Homo sapiens: one gene and its partners. The protein of the gene in region 1 purifies or fractionates together with the protein of each later gene. This does not show direct contact. Each region holds a gene or a part of one and is shown in the gene's direction. Other genes may lie near its edges.

What was found.
Region 2: the proteins of DYNLRB1 (region 1) and DYNLT2B purify together in Homo sapiens (affinity purification with mass spectrometry; one large-scale study listed by BioGRID and IntAct). This does not show direct contact.
Region 3: the proteins of DYNLRB1 (region 1) and SEPTIN2 fractionate together in Homo sapiens (co-fractionation; one large-scale study listed by BioGRID). This does not show direct contact.

The regions. Positions count from the first base shown.
Region 1 is NC_000020.11:34,536,916-34,540,567, forward strand, and holds part of DYNLRB1 (dynein light chain roadblock-type 1), read left to right. Parts: intron 1-3,518; coding exon of another isoform or gene 3,519-3,541; exon of another isoform or gene 3,542-3,577; intron 3,578-3,652. UniProt on the Homo sapiens protein: Acts as one of several non-catalytic accessory components of the cytoplasmic dynein 1 complex that are thought to be involved in linking dynein to cargos and to adapter proteins that regulate dynein function.
Region 2 is NC_000003.12:196,290,582-196,294,255, reverse strand, and holds the end of DYNLT2B (dynein light chain Tctex-type protein 2B), read left to right. Parts: intron 1-2,881; coding exon 2,882-2,929; coding exon of another isoform or gene 2,930-2,952; 3' UTR 2,953-3,037; downstream 3,038-3,674. UniProt on the Homo sapiens protein: Acts as one of several non-catalytic accessory components of the cytoplasmic dynein 2 complex (dynein-2 complex), a motor protein complex that drives the movement of cargos along microtubules within cilia and flagella in concert with the intraflagellar transport (IFT) system.
Region 3 is NC_000002.12:241,346,893-241,350,544, forward strand, and holds part of SEPTIN2 (septin-2), read left to right. Parts: intron 1-1,241; coding exon 1,242-1,299; intron 1,300-3,180; coding exon 3,181-3,282; 3' UTR 3,283-3,311; intron 3,312-3,652.

The DNA.
Region 1 (3,652 bases):
TAAAGCTCCTGAGAATGTCTCCTCTGGAAGGACAGTGTCATCTGAAAGCTCCTGGCCATTCAGGTCTCAACTTGGCAGCGGCAGCGTCTCCAATTTGGCCCTGAAGACCCACAGGCATTCAGAGCCCATGACTGTGGTTGGTGCTTGAGTCCAGAATGGGCAGCTCCCAAGTAGGGGGTTCTCCTTGGGGTTCACAGGCCTGGAGATCCCACAACCTTGTCAGTGGAGGAGGATGAGGTGGCCAGTCCCTCACCTTGGCAGCACTGCAGGGGGCGCCCGTGCTCTCAAGTCACACTGTCTCTCTCCCACACACATGCGGCGCTGTGCTGGAGGACGGTGGCGCGCTGAGCTTGTCTTACAGAGCATGCTTCTTTGGCTCAGCCTCACTGCTGCCACTCAAGTCCTTCCTCGTCACCAAATGCTTACCTGCATTTTTAAGGCCATCTACTCCACTTGAGAGTAAGTTCTATGAGGGCAGGGGCTTGTAAGCACATAGTAAGCATCTAGCAAATATCCATTGATTAAATAAATGAATGACTCTGTAAACCTCCCTCCACTGCTGACACCCCACTGATATGGGTCAGAAGTGGGGTCAGCAGTGGGGACGGGGTCAGGGATGTCTGTGGGGCATAGTTTTAGGATGAAAACCAGTGATTTGACACTTTGACATACCCACTTTTATGTGGCCAAGAAAAAATAATTGGGTTTTGGTGCCAGAACTCCTGTGGTCAGGAGCCACCACGCAGAGCCTAGGAGGCCCTGGCGCTGAATTGCCTCAGGATGGCTACAGAACACAGGACCCAGGGGTGGCCACAGGCGTAGAGCAGGCCTGGCTGCTGCTGGAAGTGCCCGTTTGAGACTGTAGTTAGCACCCTACACATCGTGGGCAGCCTGGAGCAGCCTGGCCCGGGAGGGAGATCCATGCCTTCCCACCTGCCTGACCTGACCCCATCCAGCTGAGGTACTGCTTCCCAGGCTGCAGACAGCAGCAGGTGTTCCAGACAGTGTGGCTCTCCACATGTGTGCCACATTCACCCCACCCTGGCCCAGAACCGCCCACGTGAACAGGCTTTTTTTTTTTTTTTTTTTTGAGACAGGGTCTAGCTCTGTTGCCCAGGCTGGAGTGCAGTGGTGCGATCATGGCTCTCTGCAGCCTCAGCCTCCCTAGTATACTGCTGGGACCACAGGCATGTGTCGCCACACCCAGCATTTTTTTTTTTTTTTTTTTTTTTGGTAGAGACAGGGTTTCACTATGTTGCCCAGGCTGGTGTCAAACTCCTAGGCTCAAGCGATTCTCCCACCTCAGCCTCCCAAAGTGCTGGGATTATATGCGTGAGCCACCATGCCCGGCCAAGACATTTTAACACAAACTTTTGTTAGCTGGACATGGTGGCACCAGTATTCCCAGCTACTCGGGAGGCTGAGGCAGGAGGATCGCTTGAGCCTGGGCAGTTGAGGCTGCAGTGAGCCATGATCACGCCACTGCACTCCAGCCTGGGCAACAGCGAGACCCAGTCTCAAAAAACAAAACAAAAAAAACAGACTTCTAGTTTTCACTTATTAACTTCACTAGTATTAAAGCTGAGGTAACTAACTCAGCCTACACAACCTTCAACACACACTACCTCTCACAAAGCACCTGAAGTGGTATTGTTGCATTTAGGGCTTGATGATTTGGAGTAAAAGACACTGATGTTACCGATTGTGCCTATTTTTATCAGTGGCTTGTTAATTATTTCTGTTTTCATTAGTGATTTTTATGTATGCAGATTGGTTAGCCATGAAACTGTTAGTCACTTCATTTCTGTTTCTTCCCTGTTGCAACAGCCCATCTTCGTGGGAAGAACCAAGCTTTAGGCTTGGCTCTGAACAGCCACAAAGTGACTTGGCTGAGGTCCTGCCATTTCGCTCATGCTCAGCAGGGGGCAGCAGACCAGGGCAGTTCAGAGTATGGGGTCAAACCCAGGTCCCTGTCCCCACTCCACCTGTGGATTTACCCTGGATTGGGCAAGCCCTTTAACTCTCTGAGGCTCCGTGTTCTCAGAGTGACTCGAGGATTCACTGAGGTGCCGTGTGAGAAGTGGGTGGCCCAGACCTGGACACAAAGAAGCCTTGATCAATGTTTGCAGTTTGATTAAGTGGGTAAATCTGCATATATAAAAATCACTAATGAAAACAAATAATTAACAAGCCACTGATAAAAATAGGCACAATCGGTAACATCAGTGTCTTTTACTCCAAATCATCAAGCCCTAAATGCAACAATACCACTTCTCCAGTTACCTCTTCAGTGAAACGGGAGGCACTCAGGCTCACCTCCAAGGACTTGGACTTGCTGTGATTTAATGGTGGACATTCCTCCTTACAGGGCCAGATCCCTGGAGCTGGAATCCAGGCTGCTTTGTCCCATTTTGAAATTTTCTTATTCAGAAGGTTCTGGAAAGCCAACAAATTGAGTTTGTGACAGAAATTGACATTAACTGGCTGGGTGTGGTTGCTCACACCTATAATCCCAACACTTTGGGAGGCTGAGACAGGAGGATCACTCGAGCCCAGGAGTTTGCAACCAGCTTGGGCAACATAGTGAGACCCCATCTGTACAAAACTTTTTTTTTTTCTTAATGGAGTCTCACTTTATCACCCAGGCTGGAGTGCAGTGAGGCGATCTGCAACTTCTGCCTCCCAAGTTCAGGCAGATCTCCTGCCTCAGCCTCCCAAGTAGCTGGGATTACAGGCACCTGCCACCAAGCCTGGCTAATTTTTGTATTTTTAGTAGAGATGGGGTTTCACCATGTTGGCCAGGCTGGTCTTGAATTCCTGACCTCAAGTGATCTGCCCACCTTGGCCTCCCAAAGTGCTACGTGAGCCACCACGCCTGACCTTCTACAAAAAACTTTTTAAAAATTTACCCAGGTTTGGTGGGGTGTGCCTGTAGTCCCAGCTACATGGGAGGCTGAGGCGGGAGGATCACCTGAGCCCAGGAGGTCAAGGCTGCAGCGAGTCATGATCGCACCACTGTACTCAGCCTGGGTGACAGAGCTCTTGCTCTGTCTCGCGGAGGGGAAAAAAAGAGAGAGAGAAAAAAGAAAATGACATTACCCAAGTCCAGTGAAGTATGTCGGAATTCCATCTTTGACACTAAGTAGCTGGGTAACCTTAAGCCAGTGGTCCTCCCACAGCCTACAACATCAGCATCACCTGGGAACTTGTTAGAGAAATGCAAACTCTTGGGCTTTGCCCCAGCCCCACTAAATGATGGTTCTGGGCGTAGAGCCCTCCAGGTGGTTGGGATGCCTGCTAGCTTGACAACCATGGCCTTAGGCAATTCATTGGAGCTCTTTGAACTGGAGTCCCCCCACCTGGAAAACAGGGGTGAGAATCCTGCCTACCTGCTGCCACTGTCGTGGGGAGGATTAGAAGAGACGACACACTGTAGAGTGCCCGCTGCCCGGTATGGGGAGGCCCCTCTTGCAGGAGCCCCTGCAGGAATCTTAAAGGTTTATCTTCCGTTTTCCCAGCATTTGGAGATGCTGAACGTTGATGCTTTTTGTTGCTTTCTCCCCTTCCTCATTTTATGGTTAGTGATTTAATGGTTTATTTGCTTTCTTGTGTGTTTTTCTCTCATTTTACATTTAGTGATTTTTTTTCATTT
Region 2 (3,674 bases), on another chromosome or scaffold:
CCTCAGCCTTCCGAGTAGCTGGGATTACAGGCATGCACCACCACACCTGGCTAATTTTGTAATTTTAGTAGAGACAGGGTTTCTCCATGTCGGTTAGGTTGGTCTGGAGCTCCCGACCTCAGGTGATCGGCCCGCCTCGGCCTCCCAGAGTTCTGGGATTATAGGCGTGAGCCACTGCGCCCAGCCCCACCAAAGTTTTATTTTATGCTTAACTACCCTAGGGATCAGGGGCTGGACAGTGGGAAGTACTATGTAAATCTTAATTTATCAGCTATCTTTGGGGGAATAGTCAAGCTAAGAAGATGGTTTTTTTTGCCAGGCACGGTGGCTCATGCCTGTAATCCCAGCACTCTGGGAGGCCGAGGCGGGCGGATCATGAGGTCAAGAGATTGAGACCATCCTGGCCAACATGCTGAAACCCCGTCTCTACTAAAAATACAAAAATTAGCCAGGTGTGGTGTTGGGTGCCTGTAATCCCAGCTACTCGGGAGGCTGAGGCAGGAGAATTGCTTGAACCTGGGAGGCAGAGGTTGCAGTGAGGCGAGATTGTGCCACTGTACTCCAGCCTGGAGACAGAGCGAGACTCTGTCTCAAAAAAAAAAAAAAAAATGCATCTTGTTTGTTTGTTTTGAGACGGAGTCTCACTCTGTCACCTAGGCTGGAGAGTGGTGGTGCCATCACGGCTCACTGCAACCTCTGCCTCCCAGGTTCAAGTAATTCTCCTGCCCCAGCCTCCCGAGTAGCTGGGACTACAGGTGCATGCCACCACGCTCGGCTAATTTTTGTATTTTTTAGTAGAGACAAGGTTTCACTATTTGGTCAGGCTGGTCTCCAACTCCTGACCTCAGGTGATCTGCCTGCTTTGGCCTCCCAAAGTGCTGGGATTACAGGCATGAGCCACTGGGCCTGGCCAAAAAATGCATCTTTAGATGATACAATTCATTCATTCAACAAATAGTTCTGAGCTCCTATTATGTGTCAGCTTCTGCACCTGAGGGGCTAGGGACAAAATGATGAATAAGACAGGCATGGTTTCTGCCTATTAACATCCAGTGGGGGCCACTCAATACTCAAATGAACAAATATGTAATAAAAAACTTTAGGCTGGGTGTGGTGGCTCACGCCTGTAATCCCAGCACTCTGGGAGGCCGAGGCGGGTGGATCACCTGAGGTCAGGAGTTCAAGACCAGCCTGGCCAACATGGTGAAACCCCATCTCTACTAAAAATACAAAAACTAGCCGGGCAAGGTGGCGGGCGCCTGTAGTCCCAGCTACTTGGGAGGCTGAGGCAGGAGAATTGCTTGAACCCAGAGGGCGGAGGTTGCAGTGAGCCAAGATTGTGCCACTGCACTCCAGCCTGGGCGAGAGGGCAAGACTCTGTCTCAAAAAAAAAGCACTTTATTTGGGAGATTCCAGGAAACATTAGTAGAGGCAGAGGAAATGAGAAAGGAGGGAAAATCATGTGGTATTGAGCGGAAAACTGCTGGATGACAGGGCTCAGTCCTGTTGGAGAACTCTGGGTGGTGCTGTAGAACAGGGCCACTCACAGTGGGGTGCACAGACCAGCACGGCTCTGTGACCTGTTTGTTACAGGTCCATGATGAGGTAAACAATACACTGAGTATAAGGGTTGGTTTAGAAACTCTTACAGCAATTTGACAAAGTAATCTTCTGTGCAGTGAATCTAAGAAAAAAATTGGGGCTGTATTTGTATGTTCCTTTTTTTCATTTCATGTTCTGAGTTACCTATTTTTATTGCATTTTACAAAAGCATCCTTCCATGAAGGACCGGAAGTTAAAAACAAAGCAGGTCCTTTATCACAGCACTGTCGTAGAACACAGTTCAGAGTTATCCACCCAAGGAGCCAGGGAGCTGGGCTAAACCAAAGAATTTTGCTTTTGGTTAATCATCAGGTACTTGAGTTGGAATTGTTTTAATCCCATCATTACCAGGCTGGAGGTGAGGTTAGTGGTGCAGGAGTTGCTGAGGCAGGTGGAAATCTTGTAATAAATGCCTAAAAATGTTTTAAGCAATTTGACTGGGCTCTGGAAAGCATTTTGTGATTCTGAACTAAAAGATGGACAAGTAAATTTTATCAATTAAGAACAAACACCCAGAGACTATTTCTCTTATCCAGAATTTATGACAAGGTCCTGTTGTTCTTATTATCAGTGATACTTATAATATGGTTTCTTGGGATGAGTAATGGAGTTTACTCCAAGAAACTCAAAGCATTTCATACATTATTTCTGTGATAAATCAGGAAATATGTGAATAATTATTTTATGAATATGTATTACCTAAAGTTCATTAGTTCACATTTTATTTTTGCATTCAGAAAATCTAATTCTTTACCCATCCTAACCTTTTAGCAAGCAATTTTGTAGTCACCCTCAGGCAAGCAATAGTGTAGCTATACTCTGGAAACCCTTCACTTCTTGAAGAAGGAAAAAGTCTTCCTGATTGAAAATTGGTGGCTGGGTGAGGTGGCTCACGCCTATGATCCCAGCACTTTTGGAGACCAACATGGGTGGATTGCTTGATCCCAGGAGTTCAAGAACAGCCTGGGCAACATAGTGAGACCTCATCTTTACAAAAAATAAACAAAATTAGCCTGGTATGGTGGCAGGCACCTGTGGTCCTAGCTACTCTGGAGGCTGAGGTAGAAGGATTGCCTGAGTGTAGGAGGTCGAGGCTGCAGTGAGCTGAGATCACACCACTGCACTCCAGCCTGGGTGATAGAGTGACACCCTGTCTCAAAAAAGAAAAAAAAAATTGGAAAGATCTGAGATGGTGTTAGTTTCAGTTGCCTGTGCTGCTCTCATTCCCTCTTTAGTACTAACATTCTGGATGTGTGTGTGTGTTGTATTTATTTTTTAGGACAGTTTATTCTGCGTTGTAGCAGCATTTGGCTGTTTCTACTACTGAATGAATCTTTGAAAAGCTGGTAAAAGACATGACCATGAAGAAATCTGAACTTTTTAATATTGTTAAATATCTTGACAAAATAAAGATGTTAGTAGTTTGACAACTGAATCTGTTGTGTTTTAGGCCTTATATTTTTAATGTTTTGATTTTGTTACACTATGTTCTGTTTCTTTCTTTCCTTCCTTCTTTCTTTCCTTCCTTCCTCTCTCTCTCTCTGTCTCTCTCTCTCTCTCCCTCTCTCTCTCTTTCTCTCTTTCTTTCTTTTTTTTTTTGAGACAGAGTCTCTCTCTGTCGCCCAGGCTGGAGTGCAGTGGCACAATCTCGGCCCACTGCAACCTCCGCCTCTTGGGTTCAAGTGATTCTTCTGCCTCAGCCTCCCAAGTAGCTGGGACTACAGGCAAGTGCCACCACGCTTGGCTAATTTTTGTATTTTTACTAGAGACGGGGTTTCACCATATTGGCCAGACTGGTCTCAAACTCCTGACCTCATGATCCATCCATTTCAGCCTCCCAAAGTGTTGGGATTACAGGTGTGAACTACTGCGCCCGGCCCTACTATATTCTTGTTACACTGGAACACAGAGAAAAAAGTAGGGGAAAAGCCATTTCAATTGTTCAAACATAACCAATGGTAAAAATTTTGGTATATTTTCTACCAATGTTTTTTATTTCCAAGGTTTAAAAAACATATAATTTTGTACCCTCATTTTTCATTTCTCATGATGTTATGAACAGTTTTTATGTC
Region 3 (3,652 bases), on another chromosome or scaffold:
GTGGCATCCAAGCAGCCAGTGGCCGTTGAAGCAGCAGCTTCGATCCTCGCAAAGTCCTGCAGCCATCCTCACTCACCTTTTCTTTTTAACCATTCTAATATGTTTTTATATAAGTTTTCTGGGAGGCCAAGGCAAGTGGATCACTTGAACCCAGTAGTTTGAGACCGGCCCTGGCAACATAGGGAGACCTCGCCTCTATAAAAATTTTTTTTAAATTAGCCAGATGTGGTGGTGCATGCCTGTGGTCCCAGCTACTAGGGGGAGGATTCCTTGAGCCCAGTAGGTCCAGGCTGCAGTGAGCTATGGTCGCACCACCACGCTCCAGACTGGGCAACAGAGTGAGACCCTGTCTCAACAACAAAAGTTTCCTGTGTTGTAATTCATTAAAATTCTCACATTCTAATAATTTGATGGATTTCTAGATACATATGTTGTACACATTGAAGTCTAATTATGAGTTTGGAAATGAGACATTAAGAAAGATTTTAGAGGCAGCAAGAAAATTCCACCCTCTGGAAGCTGAGTAGGCGCTGGCCCTGAGATGGAGATTAGTGTGCTTTGCAGAGCACAGTTCTCAGGTGTGCTTGGGGAGCTTACCCTTTGCCCCTCGTTCACTCACGCAGATCCTGCTCCTTAAATGTGGTGACTACATTCGCATTAATAAAGAATAACATCTCAAAGCAAATTCTTCAGATAATACCTATTTTTGAGTGGGTAACAGCAAGTGTTGTCGCTCAAGCTTAGAGTAAGAAAAGTCTCTTGAATGTTCCATTTCATGTTGTTCGAACTTTTTAAAATCATTCTGTTCCCTTTTTATTCATTATATCTTTAATTAGAAAAATGATAGGCTGGGCGTGGTGGCTCATGCCTGTATTCCCAGCACTTTGGGAGGCCAAGGTGGGCGGATCACTTGAGGTTCAACACCAGCCTGGCCAACGTGGCAAAACCCCATCTCTACTAAACACAAAAAAAATTAGCTGGGCGTGGTAGCACGTGCCTGTAATGCCAGTTACCCAGGAGGCTAAGGTGGGAGAATTGCTTGAACCTAGGAGGTGGAGGTTGCAGTGAGCCAAGATCATGCCACTACACTCCAGCCCGTGCGACAGAGTGAGACACCATCTCAATATAAAAAGAGAAATGATAAATACATGTCATTTTAAATTTTAAAGTAGAATTTTTTGGGGGGGTAGCAAATAACTATTTGTTGCAGTGTTATGATTCTGATTTCTTTCGATTCTTAGGAAAGTGGAGAATGAGGACATGAATAAAGACCAGATCTTGCTGGAAAAAGAAGCTGAGGTAAGTAGGAAAGTACTATTGGTTGGTTGGTTGGTTGGTTGTTTTGTTTGTTTTGAGACAGAGTTTTGCACCATTGCCCAGGCTGGAGTGCAGTGGCGTGATCTCGGCTCACTGCAACCTCTGCCTCCCGGGTTCAAGTGATTCTCCTGCCTCAGCCTCCCGAGTAGCTGGGACTACAGGTGCCCGCCACCATGCCTGGCTAGTTGTTTTTGTATTTTTAGTAGAGACGGGGTTTCATCATGTTGGCCAGGCTGGTCTCGAACTCCTAACCTCAGGTGATCTGCCCACCTTGGCCTCCCAAAGTGCTGGGATTACAGGTGTGAGCCACCGTGCCCAGCCAAAAAGTACTATTCTTGTGACTGAAGGTGTTTTGTTTACATCCGTAGATATCATTGGTAATTAACTTAAAGTTTATAGTTTTTTTTTTAATTTGTTGAGGAGGATACATATAACTACTTTATTACTATATATACACATCTATATATAATAATAAACATGGATATTTACATAGCATACATGATGCTTCATATATTTAGCTGAAAGACTTTGGAGACAATTTAGTAATGTCACTGATATTTGTAAGTAGATCATAAATATGGAAATATGCTCTGTTGTAAAGGTGGCATTCAGATCTGCTGGAGTTTTGGAAGGCAAACACATTATTCAGTAAACAATAGGATCATAATGGGCTAGCCTTTTGGAAACAAAAAGAAAATACTTCTTTGGTCAAATTAATTCAATATTGATCAAATATTTAAATGTTAAAAATAACCACAAAGTCACCTGAAGAAAATTTAAATGTTTTATAATACTTTCCTGGAGGCATTTCTGAACACATACAAATCATAATGATAAGGATAAAGATGAATTAACATTTACTATTTTTGGCCAGGCACTGTGGGTTACACTTATAGTCCCAGCACTTTAGGAGGCCAAGGTGGGAGAATCACTTCATGCCAGGAGTTTAAGACCAGCTAGGGCAACAGAGTGAGACCCCCCTCGTTCTCTAGAAAAAAATTAAAAAATAATTAGCCATGCATGTCGGCATGCACCTGTAGTCCCAGCTACTCGGGAGGCTGAGGCAGAAGGATCCCCTGAGCCCAGGAGTTCAAGGATGCAGTGAGCTATGATTGTGCCACTGCAGTCTAGCCTAGGTGAAAGAGCAAGATCCCATCCCTTTAAAAAAAAAAAAATATATATATATGTATATGTATGTATATATATTATTTTTATTGTGAGGCCTTCATTGCCCTCCAGAAAAGCTGATTCATTCCCATTCCCCTTTACTTTGCATTTCTCACTGTCATCAGTCTCTTTCCCTCCTTTTAGGTTAGAAAACTTCTCATATTGGCCGGGCGCGGTGGCTCACGCTTGTAATCCCAGCACTTTGGGAGGCGGAGGCGGGTGGATCACGAGGTCAGGAGTTTGAGACCAGCCTGACCAATGTGGTGAAACCCCGTCTCTACTGAAAATACAAAAATCAGCTGGGCGTGGTGGTGTGTGCCTGTAATCCCAGCTACTCAGGAGGCTGAGGCAGGAGAATCGCTTGAACCCGGGAGGCGGAGGTAGCAGTGAGCCGAGATTGCGCCACTGCACTCCAGCCTAGGAGACAGAGTGAGACTCTGTCTTAAGAAAATTTATCATATTGTCTTATCTTTCTTTGGTTATTGTTTCTGTTTGGCTTGCATATTCGTATCATTTACTTGATTTTCTCTTTAGCTGTTGCTTTTTTTATTGATTGGTAAAAAGTCTTTATGTAATAACTCCTGTCATATTTTGGGAAGGTGTAGAAGTTGAAATTTTAGGAATCACAGAACACCCAGAAATAATGTTCAAAGACAGCAAACCTTGAAAACCTATAATGTGTGTGTGTGTTCACAGCTCCGCCGCATGCAAGAGATGATTGCAAGGATGCAGGCGCAGATGCAGATGCAGATGCAGGGCGGGGATGGCGATGGCGGGGCTCTCGGGCACCACGTGTAAGGTGATGTGCACATATCAAGAAGTCAGAGGTAGGCCCTGTTGTCCCTTAGCCTGGAAGACAGGCAGTTACTAACATTGTGTCAGCTTAAATATGACAGGTTCCTCCTTAAGCCTCATTAATATTTTGCATTTTGAAGTAACTCCATCACTAATCTTAAACAAGGAGAGATTGCTCCTGAAAAACAGAAGCCACTACTTTGCCACCTACTTTCTAGTAAAGATTTTTCATATTTTTGTCTCTTCTTTTTTTTTTAAATAATTTCAACTTTTATTTTATTGGGGTACATTTGCAGGTTATTTTCTAAGCTTGCAAATACCAACATTAGAAGGAAATTATGTATTAAAGCACTTTTATTAGTTGTATTATTGG